Linked DNA regions of Homo sapiens: region 2 is linked to region 1. Evidence: fine-mapped expression QTL. A gene starts in region 1. The other region holds a variant in brackets. All regions are shown on one strand. Distances are between the middles of the regions.

Region 1 (9,520 bases):
GTCTTGGTGTATGCGTGGCAGCCCTTAACTGAAAAGTCATGCACTTCGGAGTAGGCCAGATATACTTGCAAGTGGTGCTGGCTGGCTGGTCTGTTTTCAGATGTGCCATGGGGCACAAAACCCTTGTCCCCCAGCTTCAGACCTCTGAGGCCTCCCTTTTTGCCCATACAGGTTCTGAATGGGGGAAGGGTGGTCACTCCAGTCCTTCCCATGGTCCCTTCTACCTAAAGCATTTCCTTCAGGAATCTTCTGAATATGTTAAACAGAAGAGGATTTGGTTATTGCCCAGTTTAACTGTTTTAGATACTCAAATCCAATTTAAGAAATACAGAGTACACTTTGGGAGGCCGAGGTGGGCAGATCACGAGGTCGAGACCAGGCTGGTCAACATGGTGAAACCCCGTCTCTACTAAAAATACAAAAATTAGTTGGACGTGGTGGCAGGTGCCTGTAATCCCAGTTACTTGGGAGGCTGAGGCAAAAGAACTGCTTGAGCCCGGGAGGCGGAGGTTGCAGTGAGCCGAGATCGTGCCACCGCACTCCAGCCTGGGTGACAGAGCAAGACTCCATCTCAGGGAAAAAAAAGAAAAGAAAAAGAAATACAGGGCCGGGTGTGGTGGCTCATACCTGTAATTCCAGCACTTTGGGAGGCTGAGGCGGGTGGATCACTTGAGGTCAGGAGTTCGAGACCAGCCTGGCCTACATAGTGAAACCCCGTTTCTACTAAAAATGCAAAAATTAGCTGGCCGTGGTGGCACGCGCCTGTAGTCCCAGCTATTCGAGAGGCTGAGGCAGGAAAATCGCTTGAAACTGGGAGGTGGAGGTTGTAGTGAACCAAGATCTTGCCACTGTACTCCAGCATGGGTGGCAGAGCGAGACTCCATCTTAAAAAAAAAACAGAGTAGAGGTGTATCATTTATGGTTGATTAAATATGGTGTCTGTGGTGTTTGTGCTTATGCCTATAAAAAGTTGGGCACCGGGACATTGGTGAGGAATGTAATTTTTATGATCACATTGTTTCTGGGCAAAAACAGGTTCAACCTACATCATTTTTACCTGCAGTGCCTTTTCCAGGAATATAACCCAAGATAAATTTGAAGACTCCCTGCAGTTCCACACAGCTCTGCCATCTGCAACGTGTGTCTCTCTGCCTTTGCGGTTTTCTGTGTTCCAAGGGTGTCTGTGGATCCTGGGAGCTCCCTGAGGGCAGGGGTCAGGGAAGATCCCAGTTCTGTGGGGCCGTCTTAAGAAAAAACCCGCAAAATTCCAAATACAAAATTAGGTACAACAGTGATATTTACTTACGGCCAGCAAGAAGATAACAATTTACATGAGCCTTGGACATTCAGGGTCCCTTTCTCCTGACATTTCTTCATTCCATTTACCAGAAATCCTTACATAAAAATGCTTCCTGTTCGTAAACTGGCTTCCCCTCTTCACCTAGGACACTCTACAGTTCCCAGCTTTCATAGCCCACCCTCTCCCCACCATCCTGCAAGTCGAGAAGCCCTAAAACTTGAGCTTCATTCCCTTCACCTCTGCCTCTGCCTCTGCCTTCACTTGTTCTCTAATAGCCCAGAGAACAAGGCTCTGCACATGGGGAGCCCGGGCAGGGGACGGTCAGAGAGCAATGGGCACCCCCAGGCCAGTCTGTCTCACAGTGAGGTCATCCAACCACCTGAATCAGAATCCCCTGGATGGTTTATCTGAAATGCAGACTCTGAGAACTACAGAATCTGACTCTGGGGTAGGACCTCAGCACCTGCATTGGCCCACACTCTCCAGGTGATTCCAAGGTCCACTGCTCTAGTGCCTTACTCTCTGCCTAGTTGGGTCACTGGTGGGGGACAACAGTCCTCATTGACTCCCCAGACCCCACCCCATATCTCCCAAGGAGGCTGAGCAGAGGCTGCACACAACACACAGTGTCGTGTGTGTGGAGGGTCCACTGAGGGACCCTCAGTGACCCATGCCACATCCCAGGCCTCCCTTCTCTGATTCGGCTCATGTGCCAGGCACCAGTAGGAGCCATCCTCTCCTCACAGCCCCCACCACACAAACAGCATCCCCACCAGTTCCATATCCTGACCCCTATATGAGAGAGCCACCTGGAATTGAGCTAAGGATCATTTCTAGCAGCATGTAATCCCTGCATCCCTCTCCCAAGACACTCTGATGTCACGGAGTTCCAGGCTTCCTGGTGGGAAATAATGCATGGCCAAGCCCAGAAATTAAATTTGGAGGGTGAAAGGTCAATAACAGGGCCATTAAATCCTCTGGGTAATTACCTAAGAGCTTCCAAAGGACTGTGAATTGGGGCAGCTTTTCCCAGGAAAGTATGAGACTCAGAATGGCAGCAATGGGAGCAGGGTTGGGAGAAAAATGTCAACCACATACCATGCACCAGCCACTGTGCTCATGCCAGCCATATAGTCCCTGTAACATCTCACAGCAACCTATAAGTATGAATCCATTCCATTATTGCTATCTTCATCCTAAAGAAGTGCTAGGGAGACTTGGCTTGGTGTTTGGACTCTGTCATTTGAGGACCCTGGATTCCCGTCTTAGCTCTGTTACATACTGGTTAGGTAAACACTGAACCTTGTTTTTCTCCTATCACTAGAGTCCTAGTATTGGTCAAATTTTTGATGAGATGATGCATAAATGTGCTAGCACCTTGCCTTGCATGTAGTAGGTGCTCAATAAATGTTAACTGCTATTACTTGAATTAATATCGTTACTCAGGAAAGAATCAGAGCTGGGGAAGTTCAATACTTTGCCTGAAGCAAGACAGAGTAAATGGACAAGTAGAGTTCCAAATCCAAATCTTTCCAGCTCTAAAAGCTACACTCTTTCTCCAATCTCATTGGGTTCTAAGACATTTGGAGTCAGCTCAAGATAAGCCTTCCCCTATTTTCTTCTCACAGCTGATGAAATTCCCTTATGCCTCATCTAGTACATCTCACAGGCTTTGCCACTCAGGATCAACCACTTAGTGAACGTTACTTGCATTTATCCCATTTATTATTTCAATAATCAGTTATTGGACATCTACTATAAAGGACTGGTCTTATCTTATTAAGGTGTAAGACAGTCATAGGCTCCAGAAGCTTACCCTCTGGTTAGGAGATAAGACACTTGAGTATGCATAGTTATTGGGAAGCTGGGGTGCTGACATGAGTGCTCTCTCCGGTCGTGCAGTTGGTAAAGGACTCCTAAAATGTCCTCCTTTTCACCATCATCCTGTCTACATTGACATTGGCCCTTAGACTGGAAAGGTGGCTCCAGTGACTCGACAAGGGACTCAAATGCTCAGGCTAAAAGCTTGGAGTCAAGTTTTGACCCCTTTCAATCAGTCAGTCTTACAGTTCTGCCAAGTCTTCTTTACAAAGGCCCATGCATTTACTCTATTCTCACTGCTCCCCTCCTCCTAGATTCCTGCAACAGCTACCTCAATAGTCTCCCATCCTCCTGCCTCTTTCATCCCAAATCACCTGAGGATGGGTCCACAGATAAACTGCTGAGCCTGGCAATTCGGGCCCTTCATCAGCTGCTCCCACCCTGTATACTCAATGTGGCATTGTCGCACTGTGAAAATGAGGTCTCACATTCTGCCTACAGATTTTGGGCTACTGCCTTAAACGATCTGGGCCTCCATCCCCCGGTCTGTTAAAAGGGGATATTAGTCAACTCAGAGTCTAAGATGACAGAGATGAGAAAAGGCTGGCATCTAATAGTAGCTCTATAATTTTCCTCCCTTGCCCCCTACCCTCCAGACAACCCATTCTACTCTGCTTGTCTCCACTTTCCTGCCTTTGCTGGTCCCCATATTCTCTTCCAGTTCAAATCCTATCCCTCCAACTAGGCTCAGTTGGAGACTCAGCTCCTCCGTTAAACCTTTTGTGAATAATGCTAGTCCATTAAGGTGGTTTCTTTTTGTATTTCTATGGCACTTCCATCGTCTTGAAATATTAAAATTGGTTTCATATAGTTCCAACCTGTCACTCTGAGCTCCTTGAGGCCATTATGCTCCGTAGCAGGGGTGGAGAGTGGGAACATGGGGGTGGTTTAGTGGGAACTTAATATGTGCTCATTCAATATATGAAGGTGAGAATCCCCTCTGTGCATACAGAACTCAGACCTTCAAGCCAACTTCACAAAAGCCACCAGGCATGGCAGTCACCACTGGCTGTACCCTTGGAAAAGACAGGGCCAGAAGCTCAAGCACTGGATGACGGCAGGCAGCCCAGGGAAGCCACTCCTCACAGGACTCCACACCTTGGCCTCCACCTCATCCATTCCCCTGTTGTTGGTTCTGCAGGCTCTGGTCCAGACCCATCAGTAGGGTGTGGCCTGCCATGGAGCCGAGTTTGTGATGTCTGTTCTGAGTGGTCCAGGCTGAAGTCCCCACCAAGGCATGGGTGTTGGGCATTGGGCCTTTGCCCTCCTCTAGTGGCAGTCACCCAGCTTTTCTAAGCCACCAGGCAGCAGCCTAGCACCCACCTTTGGCACCTTCTTACTTTCCTCCCCCAGTCTTCATGATGTCCAGCTGGCAGAGTGGGGAACCCTGAAGCCAAACCCCTAACTGGGCCTGCCAGTTCCTGACTGAAATTGACCTCCTTCATTGAGAGCCAGGACGGAATCTTCCAGAATGCTAGAGCTGCACGGCTCAGGATGCAATGCTGGAAAAGCATGACAACTAAAGGGGTCTTCCACTCCATTCTTTAGGGTGAGAGGTGCCTGGGCCCAGTGACAAATTCTCACCCACCCCACTACATTCCTTAGTCCACTGTTAACTTCGGGAGGGTAGCACCATGCAAAGCAAAAATGTGATCTTAGGTGCATGCTGTGACTGTGAGCTGCACCTGTCCTCACAAAGCTGCTGAATTCCCCATTCGTCTCCTGGCCTTTGCAAGAGGGTCCGAGGCAGTATGAGAGAAGCCAACCCTTCTCTTCCCGGACCCAAGGGCTGTGCCCCTTCTCTCAGCCAAGCCTTGTGTCTCTAGGCACAAGGACAGCTCAAGCGTTAGCGTCTGGCCCCACCCAACTCCTTCCTCCCGGGTGTGTGTGCGTTAGGTAGAGGGGGCCTCTGGCCACTCAGGAGTTAAAATGGCAGCGGGACTGGAGGGGGTTGGCGTGGCATGCAGACTGGGAGGAGGCGACCGGAGTGGGCTGGGGAGGTTGGGAGAGCGGCGGAGAAGCGAGTGAGGAGGGCGAGCGCGAAGCCGGGAAGAGGGGCGCGCGTGGAGGGGGTGCCGGGCGCCGCGAGGGCCTGCTCCGGGCACCTGCGAACGCGCGGCGCTCTCAAGGAGCGCCTGGCTCTCGCCCGCCAGCCTCCGGCCGCGACGCGCCCAGGGCGCGGAGAGGGGGTGGGGACGGATTGGGATTCTGCCATCGCCCTCACCGGCTGGGCCCTGGAGCCGCTCCCAGGATAACTCCACGTTGGGGAGGGCGCCCGCCGAGCCTCCCCGGCCTGTGCAGACGGCGCGCGCGGCGGGAGGGCGCGGACCAGCGTCCCCAGCCCGGCCCCGGGCGGAAGGCGAGCGGAGCGCGGCCGCGCGGGCAGCAGACGGCAGACGGTGCCCGGCGCCCACGGGGTGAGTGTGCAGCTTCGGGGCTGACCTGGGCAGCGCCGCCGCCGCCGGGGAATCGTGGACACCGAGGTCGCTGGCGTGGCCGAGGCGTACGCGGCGGGAGCGGCCGGAGCAGCCGCCTCAGGGCTCCTGGCTCCTGCCCCGGCACCGCAGCTCCGCCTGACCCGGGTGGGGGCCAGAGGAGGGCCGGCCGCTGCCTTCCGCCGAGACGCCTGCGGGGGAGCCGGAGACTTGGGAGAGGGAGGCGGCCGAGGGGCAGAGGGACGGAGGGCTGGAGAATGCCCAGAAGCGGCCAGGGAGAGGGCGCCTGGGCCTTCGCCTGGAGAGGCCAGAACCTCCCCCAAACTGTTGCTGGGTAGAGTGGGGCCCTGGAGATGTGGAGGAGCCGAGAGGTGGCAGTGAGGTTAGGGAGGGCGTGACACGGGCGGACTGGCAGGCTGGAAGCGCTCCAGAGCCTGGGGACTTTCTCCTCCTTGGAGCTCGCGAGTCTGTGCGGAGGGACAAGGTGGCCTTGGGTCTGTCTGAAGTATCTGGAACCAGGAGCTAGGCTCCTCCCGGGCCGGCTGGCTGGGGTCCGACCGCAGCCTGGGATGGGACCTTTGGGGTGGGGGATGGGCCGGCCTGGGGCTCAGCCTGGGGACTCGGTCAGGGGGAAGCGGAAACGGAAGGGTGGCTCTGAGCCCACCGCAGGACCCAGGAGACAGGATGGGCTGGCCAGCCACAGGTGGGCCGTCTGTCCTGCTGGCAAAGGGTGGCGCAGGCTCTGGCTGCCCAGCCGGCGAGGAGCCGCGGGGTGAGGGAACTGAGCTCCATCTGGGGCCGAGCGGAGAAGCTAAAGAGGTGCAGGAGACCCGGAACCTGGGGAGGGGCCCCGGGGGTAGCACTGTGCTCCCTACCCTTCCTCCCCCACCCAAACGAACAGGAAGGAAAATGTCAGCTGGGCTTTGTGCTCTGTTCCTCAGGCTGCCGCAGCTCCCATCTGTTGGAGCCAACGCAGCTTCTAACTGGGCGACTGGCAGGGTTGGAGGGGGTGGGCTGGGCACAGCGCTCAGTTGCCAGAGATGGACTGACAGGCCCTCTGCTTGAGAACTCCAGGACCTAGGGTGGTGAGGAGAACAGCCTCCCTAGGTCAGGGCAGTAGAGGTGACTCCCTGCCAGTTTGGTCACTGTCATAGGGGAAGATGTAGGTCTCCCCATGCACCCAGGCCGATGGCAGGCTCCGTGCCCCCCTTTCCCGCCAGTCTAGGATGGGCTCTGGCCCAGCGTTTTGTCCCTGAATAAGAAGGCCAGGAGCTCCTCCCATTGCCCACTGCTTCTTAAAGATCCCTTCAAAAAAGAGCACTGGGCATGGAGGGTAGAGGTGGGCTCTGCACTGGGCACTGGAGCCCCCTTGCCTTTGGGCCCTGTGGCTACCAGAAAAAGCCACATGTGGGTGGCCTGACCCACTTTCCTGGCCAGGTGCTGTTGTGGCGAAACGATGGAAACAGAAGGGCAGAGCTAGGGATCTGAGCCTCCTAGGCCTTCTTCCTTCCCCTGTGCTGACTCAGGCTTCTCCTTCTTGCGGAGGGCTCTCTCTGGTCCTGGGATGGGTCCTCATTATTTGCAAAGCATGGAACTAAAGGCCTCAGTGCCTGGGAGATTGAGGTCTGCCCAGGGTCTGGCACCTAGGAACACCCCCAAATCCACACCCTCTCCCTAATGCAGTCTCCTCCCGGGGAAACACCGAGTGGCAGTAAGATCTCAGAGATCTGCTAATTCCATCCAGGCTAGTACAGCAGGTTCCCTCTCTAATTCAACACAGTTCTTCCTCACTTCCCATCCTATTTTCCCTGTGCCTCCCCTCTTCCTCCTCCCCCTCATCCTCCTCTCCTTCCTTCACTCTTCACTTTCCTCCTCTAACACTCTTCACTTCCCTTTTCCCCCTCACACTGCTCTTCCTCTTCTCTCACCCTCCTCATTCTTCCCCAGATATCTCCCTTTCTTCCCAGGCTCTGTCTCCACTTTGCCCTGCTTCTCCTGTAAACTGCAGCTTAAACCGTAAGCCAGGCGTGCACGCACTCCTGCTCATCCTGCCAGTGGGAGCACATGCACTGTTGACTTTGCTGCATCCCTTTTGCAGAGGAGCCTGGGCTGGTGGGCCTGGCAGCTGCATTTGCCTGGCCCTGGTGTCCCTTGAACCCTGTCATTTACTCACCTCCCCCTTCTACTCCCCACACCCTTATGTCGTTTATTTGAAAGGAAAAGGAAACTCCATGGCTTTTAAAAAAATGTATTCATTCAACAACTGTTTCTTGAGTGCCTACTGTGTGCCTCTCATGATTTTAGAAGCTGAAGATACAGCGGTAAACAAACCTCCATGTCTCAAGCTGACCACACTTGTATCTGGACTTGCCAGCTGATTAGCTCTGTTCCCACCAGGCTCGTTCAAAGACCCACAGCTTGAGGGGGCAGAGGTGAGGAACATGAACAATGCTAGTGAATTATCACACTGAGTGACCTCTAACATGCCAGGTACCGCTTAAGTCATCCTGTCCTTAGGATACTTTTCTGACCTGAAAGGATGGACCAGGTCACATCTCACCATTTATCTGGCAGCCCAGGGCAAGTAGAAGGCTGGTGCTTCAGACAGAGAAGGGGGAAGGAATCAAATTTATTATTGAATACCTATTATGCACCAGTCTATGTGAGGAACATTACAAAAGTTATTCTGTTCAGTCGTGCTGACAACCTTCTAATGTCTGCATTACCATCCCCTGTTTCCTAGCCAAGGAAATTGAGGCCTGGAGAGGAGAAACCACTTGCTCCGGGTCATATAGATCTCCATTTTGAAATCACTTGTATCTGCAGTTGATTTGGCCCTATGATATCTGTGACATCTGGTAACTTGTACACTTATACTAAGGCTTACATTCTAACCTAACTTTTCATGGGGCCTTATCTCCCAGTTAGACTATTAATATGTATAAGGATTTGCTGAACGGTTGTGTGAATAAGCTTTCTTAAGTGATCAAGGAAGGCTTCCTGAAGGAACTGGGACCCTGAATGAGGAGGCAGGGAGGGCAATGACTTTTCCTGTGTCATCCTACACAGGTATGTGACAACTTGTAGGCAGGAAGTCCCTCATCCCACACCCCACCTGCATTCAGGTAGAATTGACTCAGGGTCAGGATATAGAAGCTTGATCTATGGCCCATCTAATGAATAAATGTCACTTGTGTTCTTAATCTATATGGCTTGGACTCTTTATAAAAGCTCCAAGATAAAGGATGGGGACTAGAAGCTTTCAAGCCTACAAGGACTCCAGGGAAGGACAAGGACCATAGTTGGAGGCTTGAATGGGGCAGGAATGGGGAGAGTGACCAAGGAACAGAAGAGAAGGAAGACAAAGGCAGAAGATAAACTGAGAAACAAAAAACACTTTTGACAAAAATGAAGTAGCTAAAAAAGACAACAAAACAAAACCGAAGACAAGAGATATGCAAAAAAGACAGCAGCATGTGATTAGATTGCTGAAAGGACGAGTCAGAAAGATGCCTTTATCTGTTACTTTCCAGTGCGGGGCCTGGGTCTCCGTGGCCTACAGCTCAGAGGCTGAAATTTCACCAAGTTAGCCTCAATCAGGCATTTGCTTATTCAGTCAACCCATCTTTTCTAAGTACCTACTGTGTGCCTGGCTCTGTGCTAGGTGCAGGGGACAAAGAGACAGATCAGATGTCCCTGCCTTCAAGGAGTTCACCGTCAGAGTAGAGATTCTAGAGCCACACAGCTGGAGTTCAAATCCAGGCTTCACCACTTCTAGCTGGGTGACATTGAGCAGGTCACGTAACCTCTCTTCGTCTCAGTTTCCTCATCTATAAATGGGATAATAAAAGTACCTACTTCATAAAGCTGTCATGAGGACTACATGAGGTGATACATGTAATGA
Region 2 (9,520 bases), 34 kb after region 1:
TGGCTCACTGCAACCTCCGCCTCCCGGGTTCAAGTGATTCTCCTGCCTCAGCCTCCCAAGTAGCTGGGATTACAGGTCTGCACCACCACACCCGGCTAATTTTTGTGTTTTTAGTAGAGACGGGGGTTTCGCCGTGTTGGCCAGGCTGGTCTCAAACTCCTGACCTCAGATGGTCCACCCGCCTCGGTTCTCAAAGTGCTGGGATTACAGACGTGAGCCACCACGCCTGTCAGATATACCATATTTTTTTATCCATCTATCAGTTGGTAGACATTTGGGTGATTTTTATTTTTTAAGGAAGATGCAGAGAACAAGTTCTTGGAGACTTAAAATATGTTGTTTCCTTCAATGAAGATGATTACTTTGCAGATGGCGAGGATCCATTAGGTGCCCAGCACAATTAATGAAGAAGAGACCCTCACAAAGACACAACATTTTGAGATTTCAGAATGTCAGGTATAAAGTGAAGATTCCACAAGCCAGGAAGAAAAAGACAGGCTTTAGGATAGAGCAGACTTCTCAACAGCAGCCCTAGACGCAAATAGGTCATGGAACTGTGTCTTCCAACATGTGAGGGAATGTTATTTACAGTCTGAAATTATATTTCCAGTCAAACTGTCAGATATGGAGGCTCAATAAAGACATGCAAACATTTGCAAAAATGTTCGTGCCAAAATTTTCAAACACTCAGACTTTCAAGAAACTTAGCTCTTTTTCAAAAGCAACTCAAAAAAGATGTACTCTACCAAAACAAGGTGGAAAACAAGAAAGATGACATGAACCTCAGGGAGAGACAAATTGTTAAGAATATTTACTATCATAAGAAAAAGCCTGAAAAGATATGCATCAAAATGTTAACAGTGGTTATGGCACCAGGAGGTAGAAAAGGGGATTGTTTAAATTTTCTCCATGTTTTTCTATACCTTCTAATTTTTCGATAAGAATGTCATACTGTACCTACCAGTTACTATATCTTTGACACACGTGGATGCAGACAGCCAAGGGCAGGCCAGAGATAGAGAAGAGACAAAGAAAGAATAGAGGGGGGCCAGGCGTGGTGGCTCACACCTGTAATCCCAGCACTTTGGGAGGCTGAGGCGGGCAGATCATGAGGTCAGGAGATCGAGACCATCCTGGCTAACAGGGTGAAACCCCGTCTCTACTAAAAATACGAAAAATTAGCCGGGCGTGGTGGCGGGCGCCTGTAGTCCCAGCTACTGGGGAGGCTGAGGCAGGAGAATGGCGTGAACCTGGGAGGTGGAGCTTGCAGTGAGCCGAGATCGCGCCACTGCACTCCAGCCTGGGCGACAGAGCGAGACTCCGTCTCAAAAAAGAAAAGAAAAAAGAAGAGAAGGAAAGGGAGGGAAGGAAAGATATGGAGCGTGGAGCTCTGGGGGCCACTGTGCTGCTCTGAACACAATTATCCTGCGTTTCGGTGCCCTTGTCCTGTCGGCAGCCCCCAGGGCCACAGTCATATTTGTGAGTCTGTCAGTCTGCCCTGCTAGGTACAGATCTCCCTCAGGACAGAGGCTGGATCTTGTTCATCTTGTATCTATTCCCAGTGCCTGGCAGAGAAAATACATGGAATTGGTGCTTGAATGAATGTAGAGAGGAAGAGAAAGGAAGGAGGAGAAAAAAAAAAACAAAAAAACCTCACCTGGCTGGGCATGGTGGCTCATGCCTGTAATCCCAGCACTTTGGGAGGCCTAGGATGGCAGATCACTTGAGCCCAGGAGTTCAAGATCAGCCTGGGAAATAAGTAAGACCCCTTCTCTAAGAAACAAAAACATTTTTAAAAAATTAGCTGGGCATGGTGGCACATGCCAGTAGTCCCAGCTACTTGGGAGGCTGAGGTGGGAGGATCACTTGAGCCTGGGAGACAGGGGCTGCAGTGACCCCAGATCGCGCCACTGCACTCCAGCCTGGGTGACAGAGCAAGACCCTGTCTCAAGAAAACAAAAACAAAACCCACCAAATGTAGAGCATAAATTTGGTGAGACCTGAAGTAGGGATGCCATCAAGGTTTTAGCACCACTTGCTGGGGTGGTCAGTTCCGCTGTCGGAGAACTTACCTCATTTCCACTCTTGGAGGACTTACCTCAGCTGGGTCCAGCCACCTGTGTCCCACTGCCACTCAGCTGTTTCTTCAGGCAAGGCCTGGGGGAGCTTGGAATGTCCACAGGGGCTAGAGAATGGAGAATGTCTTTTGCACCCATTAAAGTTTCAGAACAGCTACACTCAGACCACAGCTCCCCAGCTACTGGTAGTCCCAGAGCTCTTATAAACCTCCTGGGGCCTACTTGAGAGGAACATTTTGGGTTCATGGCAGGGGTGTTGTGCTGGGGGGGTGGCAAGAAGGGAAGTCCTGATTTGTAGTGTTTGCCAATTTTCATAGTTTTCAGTATTTCCATCACAGCCAATTTCAACCTACTATGTAATGTTATTGAGGGTGGAGTTGGGAAGAGGTGAGCTCCATCAGCTCTCATGGACTGGGGCAAGCTGGTTCCAGCACGCACTGGTTAATGCCAATGATGGATGTAACTACCAAGTGCCACTTCTGCATGAGCACAAAGTTGGATGACTTGGATGTTTGGATGGAATCAAAGAGCTTCTGGTCCAGGGAAGGATGGAAGTAGCCACATATGCTATGAGTACCGCCAGGGAGAGTTTGGTGGAGAGTTTTTGATCAGGGGATGCAAAAAGGATCAAGACAGCTGGATGGGACCTGCTATACAAAGAAAGAACTTTGTACAACTTCCTTATCAACTAAGAAAGCAGGCTTTCATTCTAATTGTTCTGATTTGCAGATGAAAAAACTAAGGCCTAACAAGCTAATAGTCACACAGCTAATAAATAGGCCACCGTTGGGACAAACCCAAGCCTTCTGATTTTCATTAAGATTAAACTTGTCTACAGTATTCAAACCCATAAATCTTCAGTGAACAGCTTTGAACATTTCAGTACCCAGAAGGCTCCTCGTACCCCTTCTCGGGTAATTGGGTCTTCTAATTCTTAATCCAGTCCGCTTTACACCAGTCCTTACTGACTTTGGGTTGGCAGTATATCATGTACTTACAAGTATGGCTTCAAGGACAATCTTCCTCAGTGGTTAAGCACACAGACTTTGGGGCCAGACTGCCGAGATTCAAATCCCAGCTTCAGCTGTTTGACCCCAGGCAGGTTACTTAATCTCTAGATCCTTTTTTTTTTTTTTTTTTTTTGTCAGGGTCTCACACTGTCACCAAAGAGGGAGTGCACTGGCACAATTATGGCTCACTGCAGCCTCGAACTCCTAGACTGAAGTGATCCTTCCACATCAGCCTCCTGAGTAGCTGAGACTACAGGTGCATGCTACCATGCCCAGCTAAATAGTTTTTCTTTTTTTTTTTTTTTGAGATGGGGTCTCACTCTGTTGCCCAGGCTGGAGTGCAGTGGTACTACCCTAACTCACTGTAGCCTTGACCTACAGGGCTCAAGTGATCCTCCTGCCTCAGCCTCCCAAGTAGCTGGGACTAAGGTTGCACACCACCACACCTGGCTAATTTTTTAAATATTTTGTGGAGACAGAGTCTCACTATGTTGCCCAGGCTGGTCTTGAACTCTTGGTCTCAAGTGATCCTCCTGCCTCTGCCTCCCAGAGCACTAGGATTACAGGCATGAGCCACTGCACCCGGGCCAATCTCTGTATTTTAGATTCCCATTTATAAATGAGGATAAAGGCATCACAGGGTTGTTGTAGGCTGATATGGGTTAATACAAGTAAAGTGCTTAGAACAGTTCCTAGTTCATACCAAGTGTTCAGTAAGGGTCAGCCTATCATTATTTGGCAAGGGAGAAGCAGCCGTCCTGGCCCAGAAATCAGAGAGGTGTGAAGAAATTGATTAGAGATCAAGAAGGCAATCAGCCTCAGGCTTCCTTCACGGTTTCCCAACCTGGGGTCAGTGGAGCCAACTCCTAGAGAAACTTAGAACTTCTGAATTGAGAGGGACTAGCAATCTTGTAGCTGGGTACTTGTATCTTGCAGATGAGAATCAGAAGCCCAGAGTTCAGTGTGTGCCCTTATATTAATATTAGGCTAGTGCAAAAGTAATTGTGGTTTTTGCTGTTACTTTCAATGGCAAAAATCGCAATTACTTTTGCACCATCTAATACTAGTCACTTCCCTGCTGTGGGACTCTGCTTCTTCCATTGAAAAGGAAGCAGAATGAGGTGGATACCGAGGTCCCTTCCGCAGAAGCTCTGACCTGAGGACCAACTCACCTTGCTTAGATGTGGAGGCTGCACCCGGGACAGACCCCCACGTGAAGGTAGCAAGTTGGTGGGATAGGCAAGACCTCACCTCCCTGCCAGCACCCTCCATCTGTAGGGGAATGGCTTCTGAAATGGACCCAGTTGCAGGACTGCCCTGGGCTAGCTCTTTTCCCAGGAGGCAGACCCAGCTGCCTGCATTGGAATCACCTGCTTGGAAGCTGTTCAATCTGCAGGTGTCCGGGCTCCACCCTGAGGAGTGGGATGGGTATTTGCATGTTAACAAGCTCTCTGGGTGATTCGTGGGCACGCTCTTAGTTTGAGAAATATTGGATTGGAGGGCTGGGATCCAGGATGGGAGGTGCAAGCTCTCATATTAGAAATAGCTGCCATTTATCCAGTACCTACTCCATGTGGGGCACTTTTTGACATCTCTAATCTTTACAACCACCACCCTGCAAAGTAGGCATTATTACTCTAATTGTACAGAAGAGAAAACTGAGACCCACAGCAATTAACTTGCCAGGCATCATCCAGATAATGAGACAAGGAGCCAAAACTTTAGCTCGGTCCTTCTTTGCTCTTCTGCCTCCTTGCTGAACTCCTAAACAGCTGCCTCTTACCTGACTCGAAACAGCGCTGGGAGGTGACCAGCTGAACCGGGAGAGGGGTGGGTTAATGTCAAGGCGCCTGCAGCTGTGGTTCAGGGAGGCAAGGAGGAAGGCGGCGGGGGGGCGGGGGGGGGGCGGTGAAGAGGAGAGGGCGAAGGGGAGAGAGGAGGGGGAAGGGTCCCATGGCCCATCTCCGTTTTTCCGTCTCCCTTTCTCTCTCAGGCATTCTTCAGGCTCACAGCCGCTGTTTTGACAGGGTGTGAAGCCATCCGCAACCTTTGT[C/T]TTCTCTGCTTCCCAGCCTCCTATTGTCTCACTAATTAAAGACGGCTTCAAAAATTTCCCCTGTTGTGTGCTGCTTGGCAGAATGCCAGCATCCCACTGGGGAAAGCCACAGCAGGCACCTGGTACCCGGGCACTGGGAGACACCTGGGCCCTGGCAGGGGCCGGCTGGGGAAGGGAGTTGGGCCAGGGGAGAAAGGAAGCAGCCTCGGGGCAGGGCAGGCAGGGGCTGGTAATTCTTAGGCCCTACAGCAGGAGGATGGGGTTCTGGAAGGAGGGCTGGGAGTTCTCACCTATCCTCAGCTAGAGTTGCTCAGTCCCCATTTGAAAGAGTTTTCTGAGCGATTCCCCAGCAGCCCCCATCACCTGCTCCTGTGTCCGACAGAACTTCCCTTGGGATGCTTTTTGTGACAACTCACCTGAAAGCTCTCATTCCCCAAGCCATTGCCCAGGCCATTCCTTCTGCCATATGGTGACAAGCCATCTGGTTTGCCTGGGGCTGGGGGGTTTTGGGGGGATGCAGGACTTAAATGCTGAAACTGGGAAATGGGGACAAGTTGGTCACCCCACTCTGCTTCCTCATCATCCAGGTGTCAGTCCCTTCCTCAAAGAGGCCACCCAAGTTAACACAGCACCAAGTCACTCTCCTCTGACCCTGTTTAGTTCCTGAAATAGCTTTTTATTGCTGCCATAACAAATCACCACAAACATAGCAGCTTAAAGAAACACACATTTGCCATCTCACAGCTCTGTCGGCCAGAAGTCTGTCTGGGTTGGCTCAGCCGATTTCTCTGCTCCAGGTTTCCAAAAGGCCAAAATCAAGGTGCCAGCCAGCTGGACTCTATCTGAAGACTCTAGGAGATCCGCTCCTGAGCTCATTCAGGTGGCTGTAGGACTGAGGTCCCTGTTTCCATGCTGGCTGGCAGCTGAGGGTGGTCCTCGGCTCCTAGATGGTGCCTTCCAGTCCTTGTGCACAGCTTCCTCAGAACCAGCAACAGGATATCAGATCATCGCACGCTTGGAATCCCTCTTCTGCCTGCTGCTGGAGAAAGCTGCTTTAATGACTCATGTGACTAGATTTGTCCTACTCAGATAATCCAAGACATTCTCTAATCTTAAAGTTCATAACCGTAATTACATCTGCAGGATTCCTTCTGCCCTGGAAGGTGACAGATTCCATAGGCTCTGGGATTAGAGTGTGGGAGTCTTTGGAGCCCCATCCCTCCTGCTGTCTGTCATTCCTTCCGAGCCCCTACCACTCTCTGATGTCTACTTACACATTTATTGTCCATCTATCCCCCCAAGTAAAATCCATGAGCGGAGAGATTGTGTTTGAGTTGTTCAGTGCCGTGTCCCCAGCCCTCCTGAAGCAACACTTGGCACACAGTGGGTTGTTGATGTTTGTTGAATGAGTGAGTGAACTTTACAGGGACTTTTGGATGCAGAGTGGAAGTGGGAACTTCTGGCAGGTCCAAGGAGGCTTCCTACATACACCCCTCCGCAGAGCAGGTGGCATCAGGTAGGCAAAGCAACCCCTCCTGGATGCCAGGCCCCAGCTGCTGGCATCTCCCAGCCTACCTCTCTGCCAGTGTTCTTCCCTCTTCCCACCTGAGGGTAAGACTAGTAGGACCCCTACCCTCACCCCTGACCCTCAGTCTCTCCCTGCCTGAGAATCCCAAAGGGCAGAAGCCACTGCTGAGTGTGTCCCTGAGGGGTGGTGACGAGGTAAAGGCAGAGCCTGTCTGGCCTGCGCTGGGTTCAAAGCCAATGCACCTGGGACTTCAAACAATTAATTTCCCCAGTCTGCAAAATGATCAGCTTCTGAGGGAAAACAATTAGCCCACTGCAAATTGGAATTGTCATCTCACTCCTGATTTTAATTTGGACTAATGAGGGCTAAGTGATTCCTGCTCCCTCCCCTCCCACTGCCCCTAGGCCCTGAGCCCTCACCTGCCAGTGGGCACTTAACCCTCAGCTGCCCCCCTTGCATCAGAGGCTGAGGAAGTTTTTGGGCTGGCACAGGGCCCAGGGCCAGGCTGGGCAGGTGCTGGCAGGACAGAGGGAGGGAAGAAGAGAGCACCTCCGGCTCAGCCCACAGGGGAGCTGCCTGTTTACAAGGCTCATAGGTAATCAAAGTTTTATTGAATGGAATTGACTACTGGCTCACTCCTTGTCACAGCCAGTTACCTCTGGCTGCACAGTCTCTGGGGACCCTGCTTCCAGGAGTGTCTGTTTGCCTTCTTCACGCCAGGTTGCCTCTGCCTGGCCTTGCTCTCCCCATACCCCCTACTGCCATGGTGGGGAGAGGCCATGATTCTCTGCAGCCGGGAGAGGGCTCACGTCCATGTCTGCCAGTCATGGGGATCAGTGTGGGAAGTGAACCTTGGACCATTTAGTCTAACTCCAGTTCCTCTAAACAAATTAAGGCCTGGAGAGGAGAAGGATCTGGTCAAGGTCACACAGGGGTCAAGGCCCAGGAGGAACTCACGGCCCTTCATGTTTCTTCTTATTGCTTGCTTAATTGTCTGTCTTCTTTCCTGGATACTGCTTTCCTCTCTTGCCTGCACAATGCCTGGCATGTTCAGGGATGCAGGAAAGAAGAAAATAAAGCATCCCGGGCAACCCTGTCCATGTTCTTCTACCACCTCCCACCCCCACTTAGCCTCGTTTCCAGTTGGGTTGGTTTGATTCATTCATGTGCACATCCATTCGTTCACACACTGCATCTGTGTGCTGAGAACCAGGCCGTGAGCTGCGGATACAGAGATAAATAAGACCTATCCCTGCCCTCTAGGACCTCACAGTCTAGTGGTTTCTGAATGTGGGGCTGTTCAGCCCAGAGCGCCTGACCCTCAGCAGGTTGCTCTTAGGCGAGAACCAACCCTGCATCCTGAGCAGCAGCAGGTAAGGGAGTCAGCTGCAGCTCCTGGCTGCAGACTGGCCCTGTGCTCATTCACCTCTTTGAGTCGCCGCCACTGGTTGAAGAGTTTAGTTAGGAATCAGAAACCCTGAGTTCTTGTCCTGGCTTTGATGCTGATTTGCTCTGTGGCCTTCCACAAATCCCTTCACCTGGTGTACTTTCTGAAGCCAGGGTCTGGGCTTTGGTGCATCCACCTGACTTCTGATGACTCTGGCCTGACCTCATCCCAGCGCCACGCAGCTGCCTCTCCCTCCATGTGCCAGTGGAGGCAGCTCGGCTAGTGGAAAGGCCTCTGTTCTGGTCAGGAGCCATCTCTGTCTGGGCCTGCCACCACCACTGGGTAATCTCAGTTAGCTGTAAAGTGGGGAAGGTCACCACCTTAAGGGTTGGGGGCTGTGGTCTGAACAGCTCCACATTTCAAAACCACTAGACTGTGTGGTCCTGGAGGGCAGGGATGGGTCTTATTTATTTCTGTATCCCTAGCTCATGGCCTGGTTCTCAGCACACAGCTGCAGAGTATAAATGGATGAATGAATCAAACCAACCTAACCAAAAAGTAGGTTGGGTGGGGGGGCGAGGCTAGAAGACCAACTGTGTGGTAACAAGTCCATGCAGGTGAAGCCTCCCTTGAATAAAACTCTCAGGGCCATACAAGAGGACCTCATTGTTGGTATGCAGCGGTTGCTTCTTGGATACCATCCCTCAATTCAGTGGACATACGAACTGGAGGTGCTGCGGGGGAAGCAGTGGAAAGCACATGGAAGGAATTTCCTGGCTCTGGGCCTATTTTCTTGGGGTCCCTGGATTGGATTCTCTTTCAGGCTTCTTCCAACTCTTGACATGCTGGGATTTGGCATTGAGATGTACCCAGTAGTGAGGGCAGCCTTGGGAGAGGTTACAGCTTCTTCTGCACCCTGCCCAGGCCCTCTCTCACTGTGGGAAGGTGCAGTTGGCTGCACCTCTCTGACATTTTCCTCTTCACATTTTCCCCACTGTCTGTTTCCACACATGCTGCCAACCCCAGCCCATCCTGTTCCAACCCTGTGCTCTTTCCCTATGGTTTGGCCCATCTTGTCTTCAGTGGCTGTAGCTGGGCTCACCTTCCAAGTGTCCCTGAGTAAGTGGTGGAGGTGGGATTTGAACCTAAGTCTTTCTAATCCACAGTCTGTCAGAATATAGAAATGTATGTTCAATAGAAATATAATGCAAGCTGCATTAAAAAGGCAAAAAGAAACAGGTGAAGTTAATAACATATTCACCCAATATAGCAAAAATATTTCAAAATGCAATCAATAACAAATTCATGAATGAGATGTTTCACATTCTTTTTTCATATTAAATCTTTGAAAGCTGGTGTACATTTACATGTCCAGCACATCTCCATTTGGACTGGCCACATTGCAAATACCCAGTGGCCTCATGTGGGGCTGCCACCTTGGACAGCTCTGGTCTTTGTTCTTGA

Direction of the effects. Positions count from the first base shown, and alleles are read on the strand shown. Sizes are in standard deviations (SD) of each study's normalised expression.
For the expression in thyroid of the gene that starts at base 5,180 in region 1, allele C in region 2 goes with a lower level than allele T (moderate effect, 0.43 SD a copy in GTEx).

What was found.
Region 2: its variant is fine-mapped to the expression of LRRN2 in thyroid (GTEx, PIP above 0.99).

The regions. Positions count from the first base shown.
Region 1 is chr1:204,681,398-204,690,917 of GRCh38, reverse strand. It overlaps LRRN2 (leucine rich repeat neuronal 2), which reads left to right and starts at 5,180. Exons shown (of 2, transcript NM_201630.2): 1 at 5,180-5,598.
Region 2 is chr1:204,647,735-204,657,254 of GRCh38, reverse strand. All of the region lies in intron 1 of LRRN2 (leucine rich repeat neuronal 2), which reads left to right. Among named protein-coding and RNA genes, the nearest start is that of LRRN2, 33 kb to the left of the region's middle. RefSeq lists an enhancer at 9,085-9,520. The variant C/T (reference allele first, on the strand shown) is at 5,142.